Homo sapiens: one gene and its partner. The protein of the gene in region 1 purifies or fractionates together with the protein of each later gene. This does not show direct contact. Each region holds a gene or a part of one and is shown in the gene's direction. Other genes may lie near its edges.

Evidence for each region.
Region 2: the proteins of SLAIN2 (region 1) and JARID2 purify together in Homo sapiens (affinity purification with mass spectrometry; one large-scale study listed by BioGRID and IntAct). This does not show direct contact.

Annotation. Positions count from the first base shown.
Region 1 is NC_000004.12:48,383,029-48,386,528, forward strand, and holds part of SLAIN2 (SLAIN motif-containing protein 2), read left to right. Parts: intron 1-618; coding exon 619-756; intron 757-3,500.
Region 2 is NC_000006.12:15,494,069-15,497,568, forward strand, and holds part of JARID2 (protein Jumonji), read left to right. Parts: exon of another isoform or gene 1-1,844; intron 1,845-2,063; coding exon 2,064-3,102; intron 3,103-3,500.

The DNA of each region.
Region 1 (3,500 bases):
ATGGTGGTGCACATCTATAGTCCTAGTGACTTGAGAGGCTGAGGCTGGAGGATTGGTTGAGCCCAGGAGTTCAAAGCTACAGTGAGCTGTGATCACACCATTACACTCCAGTCTGGGCAACAGAGCAGGATCCTGTTTTCAAAAAAAAAAAAAAAAAAAAAGTTTCTAGATTAAAAAAAGAGAAAAAGTGTCCTTTATATTTCACTATGAAAGTAATACAATTTTTGCTAAGTTTTTGTATTTCAGATAAGTAAATCAAGAGTGTAGTCAGGTTTACTATTTTATTAATAGTGAATCATTACAAAAATAAAAGAGAAAGTGAATTTCATTTTACTTGGTTATGTTGTTTTTGCTTTATTGTTTTATGAAGTTACCTGTATTTAGATTTTGCTTTAAATATAAAATTTGTGGTTATCTTTAAGTGTTCTCTTATTCTACCCACTTAACAGATCCTAGATCGAGTTGTTTGTTTTTTTTAATAAGACAAGTCCTTTGTATTTTCTCATCTAAAATAAACAGAATGTTTGATAAACAATTTGATTTTTGAATGCTAGTTAATATTTTAATTTTCTCCATCTGAAAGAATATGATTTTTTTAAAATTAAAATTCTGTTGCAGAAAAACTAAGACGCAGTCTTCCAAACCTGTCCCGAACATCTAATACACAAGTTGACTCAGTGAAAAGCAGCAGAAGTGACTCAAATTTTCAAGTGCCAAACGGAGGAATACCTCGTATGCAACCTCAGGCTTCAGCCAGTAAGTATCCTTCTTATGCTTTCATGTATCAGTTATTTAAAGAGAAGTGAAAATTTTAGATATTTGTTTTATGCTGAAAAACCGTTTTTTATGCTGAAAAACCGTTTTAAACCATAGCTATAGTAAAATTTAGTGTTTATTAGTTGCTGGATGATAATCAAAGTTATATTACAATTTAAAATTTTCTATGTAGGATACTTGATTCTGCCAGTACATCTGTCTATACAAAACTCTGGTCTCTCCAGAATTTTAAAATAAGCAAAATGTAACTATTAAAAAAGTAGGTGTAGCTTTTGCTTATAGATACTAGAATTAGAAATAAAAACCAGTAGAGCATCCAAAAATATATGTCCCTTAGTACGTAAATTTTCTTTAATAACCTCCACTTTAAAAATACCTAAAAGTTTGATTATTACATAATTTTAGAATCATACTCAAAATAATCCATTGTTCAAACCTGCAATATATTAAATCTGTTATCAAAGTTGAATTGTTGAAGTTCTTTTCTTTCCAAAACAAAAGTATACCAGGAGAACTCTTGGATGATCTCATTTTATTTCTGCATCTGTTGAGATAAGATTTCTGGTTTTGATTTGATTTTCTGTGTTTGTTAAGGCTATTTTAATGAAAAAATACAATATTGAATCAATATGTATGCCAAATTAATTCATAGTCCTAATCCTACTTATAGATTAAAATTTGAGATAAATTGCCAGAAACCATCACTTTTTAAGAATTGATCAGGACTTGTCTCTTTAAATTATCTTTCAGAAAACAAATTCTTAGAGTTAAAGCTAAACTCTTAAACAGAGAAGGTGAATTTTAGAAGTATAGTAGAAAGAACACATGTAGATTATAATTTTTAATAAGTTTTGGTCATTGGGTGGTTACTAACCCATGAATGTGACAGTATTTGTATTCAACTATTATTTGTAATAGATACTTGAGTTTTTATTTTGTGGCAAGTAGTATGTTAAATCAATACAGGCATTTCTACTATAGCACAAAATATGCACTCCTTAAAAACCTCACATTCTGCAGTATTACACAATAAAAATGATAGGATGATGAGGAGTGGAGGGAATAGTCCTGGAACAGACCACTGAAAACCCAAGCAACTTTCTTAGAAAGCATTAATAAAAACAATAATGATACTAGCACAGTTAAATTCATGTTAAATCTTTATTAAATACTCCAGGAGATATAGAACTTCATTTTTAAAGAAAGATTTGAAGGTAATGTGATGGAAAGGAAAGGTTGAGACTGTTGAATTAAGGAAACATATGCAGCATAGACGAAGATCAGAGAGAATCATACAGTAAGATCATCTAGGACAAAATAGCCAAACTGAGCCAAGAAGTAGTGATGTTGGAGTAAATGGGCATTGTGTATATTAATGTACAAGTTGATTTTAAAGGAATTTCAAAAAATTACTTTTTAGCTAGGATAGATTTGAGCGTGTAGTCAAAACGGTTTTAAATAAATGATTACAGTTATTTTTATGATCTTATGAACGCTCAGTATTCATCCCATGTGTTTCACAGCTCACATCAGTCCCGTATATGAGCTCTGAGACACAAAGGGTGCATATTCACTGGGGTCCTTGTAGGGACACAAGGGATGCTTATTCACTCAGATCCTTGTAGGTACACAATGGATGCATATTGTCTCAGATCCTTGTGGCATATTACTATCAGTGGTTGAAGTGGTAGCTGTGTTATATTCTTTCATTTTCTCAAGGCTATGAAGAAGTGATACAAACGAGTTTGTTGACTGTTCACTTATAACTTGTTTATTAAGCAGTTAAAAATTTGAAGATATTTAACCCTTTTTTCATTTTCATCTTTTTTTTTCTTTTTTTTTTGATTGAGTCAGGGTTTCACTCTGTCACCAGGCTGGAGTGCAGTGGCACAATCATGGCTCACTGCGGCCTCACCTTCCTGGGCTCAAGTGATCCTCCTGCGTAGCTGGGACCACAGGCGTGCACCACCATGCCCAGCTAATTTAATTTCTTCACACTTTTCCTTGGCCCTGTTGTGTTTAGCTGACTTCATATACTTCATGTTAAGCTGTTGTTACTTAGTGGCTCAAAAATCAACAGGCTAGCAGGAGTTTGAGACCAGCCTGAGCAACACAAGACCTCGTCTCTAAAAAAATGTTTTTTTTTTTTTAATTACCCAGGCATGATGGTCACATGCCTATAGTCCCAGCTACTTAAGAGGCTGAGGTGGGAGGATTGCTTGAGCCCAGGAGTTTGAAGCTGCTGTGAGCCATGATCATGCTGCTGCACTCCAGTCTATTGAAAGAAAAAAAAAAAAAAAAAAAGCTACGAAAAAACTATATTTGAATCAAAATGACTTCTGTGATATATTGACAAATTTTCCTTATTTACAAGGTGCATATGATATTACTTATATAACAAATTTATATTATACTGTATTTAGATGCATAATCTTATTTAATCCTTAGAACAATTCTATGAAGGAGGTACGATTATTACCACATTTTACAGATTAGAAATTGAAGCTTTGAATGGCCAAATAACCTATCTCTGATTATACAGCTTATAAGCGGCAAGTTAGAATTTAAACCCATGTTGATTCATCTTGAGCACTGGATCTCAATAGGTGAGAGTCCAAATTCACCTAGTGAGAGTTGTCACATCTATGGTTTAGACCATGATATAAAACTTATCCAGAAATATAATTTCCATTTTTCCTAAGATTTAAAATTCTAACGTTTAA
Region 2 (3,500 bases), on another chromosome or scaffold:
GGAATGAGGCCTCCATGGGCCTGGCTCCTAAGAGATGATGTCCTACCAAGAATTTGTGGCTTTGATTGGACTGCACTTAATTGGTGGCATATAGAGAAATACAGGTCTCAGTGGCTTCTTTCCTTTTTGATTTTTATAAACTTCACTGATACTTCATTCAGTGGTTCCAAGCGCGGTCCCCAGGTCAGCACACAGCATCACCTGGGACTTGGTTAGAAATGCACATTCTCAGTCCCATCCCAGACCCTCTGACTTGGACACTCTGCCGGTAGGGCCCAGTGATGTGTTTACATCAGCCCTCTAGGGGATGCTGAGAGCCACTGGTTTGGATGTTTTTGGCAAGTCTTTTTTTTTTTTTTTTTTTTGAGACAAGAGTCTCGCCCAGGCTGGAGTGCAGTGGCATGATCTCGGTTCACTGCAAACTCCACCTCCTGGGTTCACGCCGTTCTTCTGCCTCAGCCTCCCAAGTAGCTGGGACTACAGGCGCACACCGCCACACCCAGCTAATTTTTTGTATTTTTAGTAGAGACGGGGTTTCACCGTGTTAGCCAGTATGGTGTCAATCTCCTGACCTTGTGATCCACCCGCCTCGGCCTCCCAAAGTGCTGGGATTACAGGCGCCTTTGGGAAGTTTCATTCCATGCCCCACCCCCACTTAAGGGGGGTCCTGGGCCAGGCCTAGGTTTAGTACAAAGGTCACTAAGACTCATTACCCGCCATCTGGGGACCTTCGTCCCCATGTGACAGCAGCCTGCACAGCCTTGTGGTGGCACTGGTGTTTCAGTACCCTCTGGGCCATCACTGCATGTGGCCAGCTCTCCTGACCAGGAAGTGCAGGCTCCCCCGACCCTGGCACCTTCCTCTCGGGCTGTTGGGGAGAAGAGGGGGCTAGTATTCTGTGTTTCTCAGTAATTTTGTGATTTTTAGGCTTCTTCCTTTGGAGATGGTGGTGGTTATAAAACCCTGAAGTCCCTGACTTTAACCTCATATCATAGACGAAAAGTAATGCCCAAGGTGTTAAGTGATGGGGCAGTGGCCACATTGTGACGCAGAGAAGACATCTTCTCGAAACCAGCATGTCTGGCAGCAGCCCATTGGGGTCCCTTCATTATTCTTGTTTGAAGCTTGTGCATTTCTAGTGTCTGCCATTGTCGCTCCCCATTTTCGCTGACGTTTGTGTGTCCCAAGATTACCACGGCGTCCAAGCTGTAAGACTGTCTCTGTTTGCCCAGGTCCCATAGAACCTGATGGGAAAGTTTGTCCAGGGTGGAAGATACATGGGACAGTTTGTAAACGGTGGGAAAATATAGGAAGCGCGTGTGCAGACGAGGGTTGGCATGTGTTGCTTCAACAGTGAGGTCGGGGCATCCCTCTTCCATCCAGCCTGGCCCTGTCCAGGGCTCGTCTCCACAAGGAAAGCAGACAGCAGCTGCTGACAGTTTGCAGCCACACCTCTGGGCCTGGCCTGCCACCCGGAGCCAAACCACATGAGCACTGCTGTTCTTTTGCTTCCATAGTATTTTTGTTTTCCTTCTTTTTTTAGCCATAGATTTCTAAATCCTGTGGGCAGGTCATGCTGCTATGTGGAGCACAGAAATAGCAGACATGACTTTTCTTGGAACAGGGATATGTGTGTGTGTCTGTCTCCACTTCCCCCAAGGAAGCAGGATCTTGCTGTCATCAACTCTGAGAAGCTCAGGACAGGTGATTGCATGGCACGTGGGGAGGTCTTCATTGTGAAACACCAAATTTCCTGGAAGAGCAATGGGAACGTGAAAATGCACCCAGGAAACCCCGCTAGGAAGCGCCTGGGGCAGTTTGCATACTTCTGTGACGAAGGATAGGTATATAGTGGATTCTGAAAGTGGACATCGCTGCTTAATTCTTGGATGTGTATTTTGCTTCTCTTTGCTGGTATTTCCACATCTCTTCTTATCACACTACAGGCTGCTGGCTCTGTTCATCCCCAGCATCCAGGGTCCTTTCTCACGGGTGGGCCGGTCATTTTAGTGGCAGGTACTAATTCTGCGTTTTTTTCCACCTCTGCTTCTGCTGCTCCACAGGTTTCTAAGGTAAACGGAGTCACTCGAATGTCATCTCTGGGTGCAGGTGTAACCAGTGCCAAAAAGATGCGCGAGGTCAGACCTTCACCATCCAAAACTGTGAAGTACACTGCCACGGTGACGAAGGGGGCTGTCACATACACCAAAGCCAAGAGAGAACTGGTCAAGGACACCAAACCCAATCACCACAAGCCCAGTTCCGCTGTCAACCACACAATCTCAGGGAAAACTGAAAGTAGCAATGCAAAAACCCGCAAACAGGTGCTATCCCTCGGGGGGGCGTCCAAGTCCACTGGGCCCGCCGTCAATGGCCTCAAGGTCAGTGGCAGGTTGAACCCAAAGTCATGCACTAAGGAGGTGGGGGGGCGGCAGCTGCGGGAGGGCCTGCAGCTGCGGGAGGGGCTGCGGAACTCCAAGAGGAGACTGGAAGAGGCACACCAGGCGGAGAAGCCGCAGTCGCCCCCCAAGAAGATGAAAGGGGCGGCTGGCCCCGCCGAAGGCCCTGGCAAGAAGGCCCCGGCCGAGAGAGGTCTGCTGAACGGACACGTGAAGAAGGAAGTGCCGGAGCGCAGTCTGGAGAGGAATCGGCCGAAGCGGGCCACGGCCGGGAAGAGCACGCCAGGCAGACAAGCACATGGCAAGGCGGACAGCGCCTCCTGTGAAAATCGTTCTACCTCGCAACCGGAGTCCGTGCACAAGCCGCAGGACTCGGGCAAGGCCGAGAAGGGCGGCGGCAAGGCCGGGTGGGCGGCCATGGACGAGATCCCCGTCCTCAGGCCCTCCGCCAAGGAGTTCCACGATCCGCTCATCTACATCGAGTCGGTCCGCGCTCAGGTGGAGAAGTTCGGGATGTGCAGGGTGATCCCCCCTCCGGACTGGCGGCCCGAGTGCAAGCTCAACGATGAGATGCGGTTTGTCACGCAGATTCAGCACATCCACAAGCTGGGCCGGCGCTGGGGCCCCAACGTGCAGCGGCTGGCCTGCATCAAGAAGCACCTCAAATCTCAGGGCATCACCATGGACGAGCTCCCGCTCATAGGTAGGTCTGGGCGGGGGGTCAGGGGGTGGTGCCTGCCCTCCTGCCCCCAGATCCCTGCAGTTCCCTCACAGTCTTCACGTTCTCTTCCCTTGCGAAAGCTCCAGTTCCGCTTCCCTGTCTCGGGAGTAGTGGGCTTCTCAGCTCATTCCCCCTGCAGCCCTTCTTCCCAGGTCCTGGGCGTTGGTGGCAGGATAAGAATGGTATTGAGCTGCCGGGCGCGGTGGCTCACGCTTGTAATCCCAGCACTTTGGGAGGCTGAGGCGGGCAGATCATGAGGTCAGGAGATCGAGATCACGGTGAAACCCCGTCTCTACTAAAAATACAAAAAAATTAGCCGGGCGTGGTGGCGGGGGCCTGTAGTCCCAGCTACTTGGAGAGGCTGAGGCAGGAGAATGGCG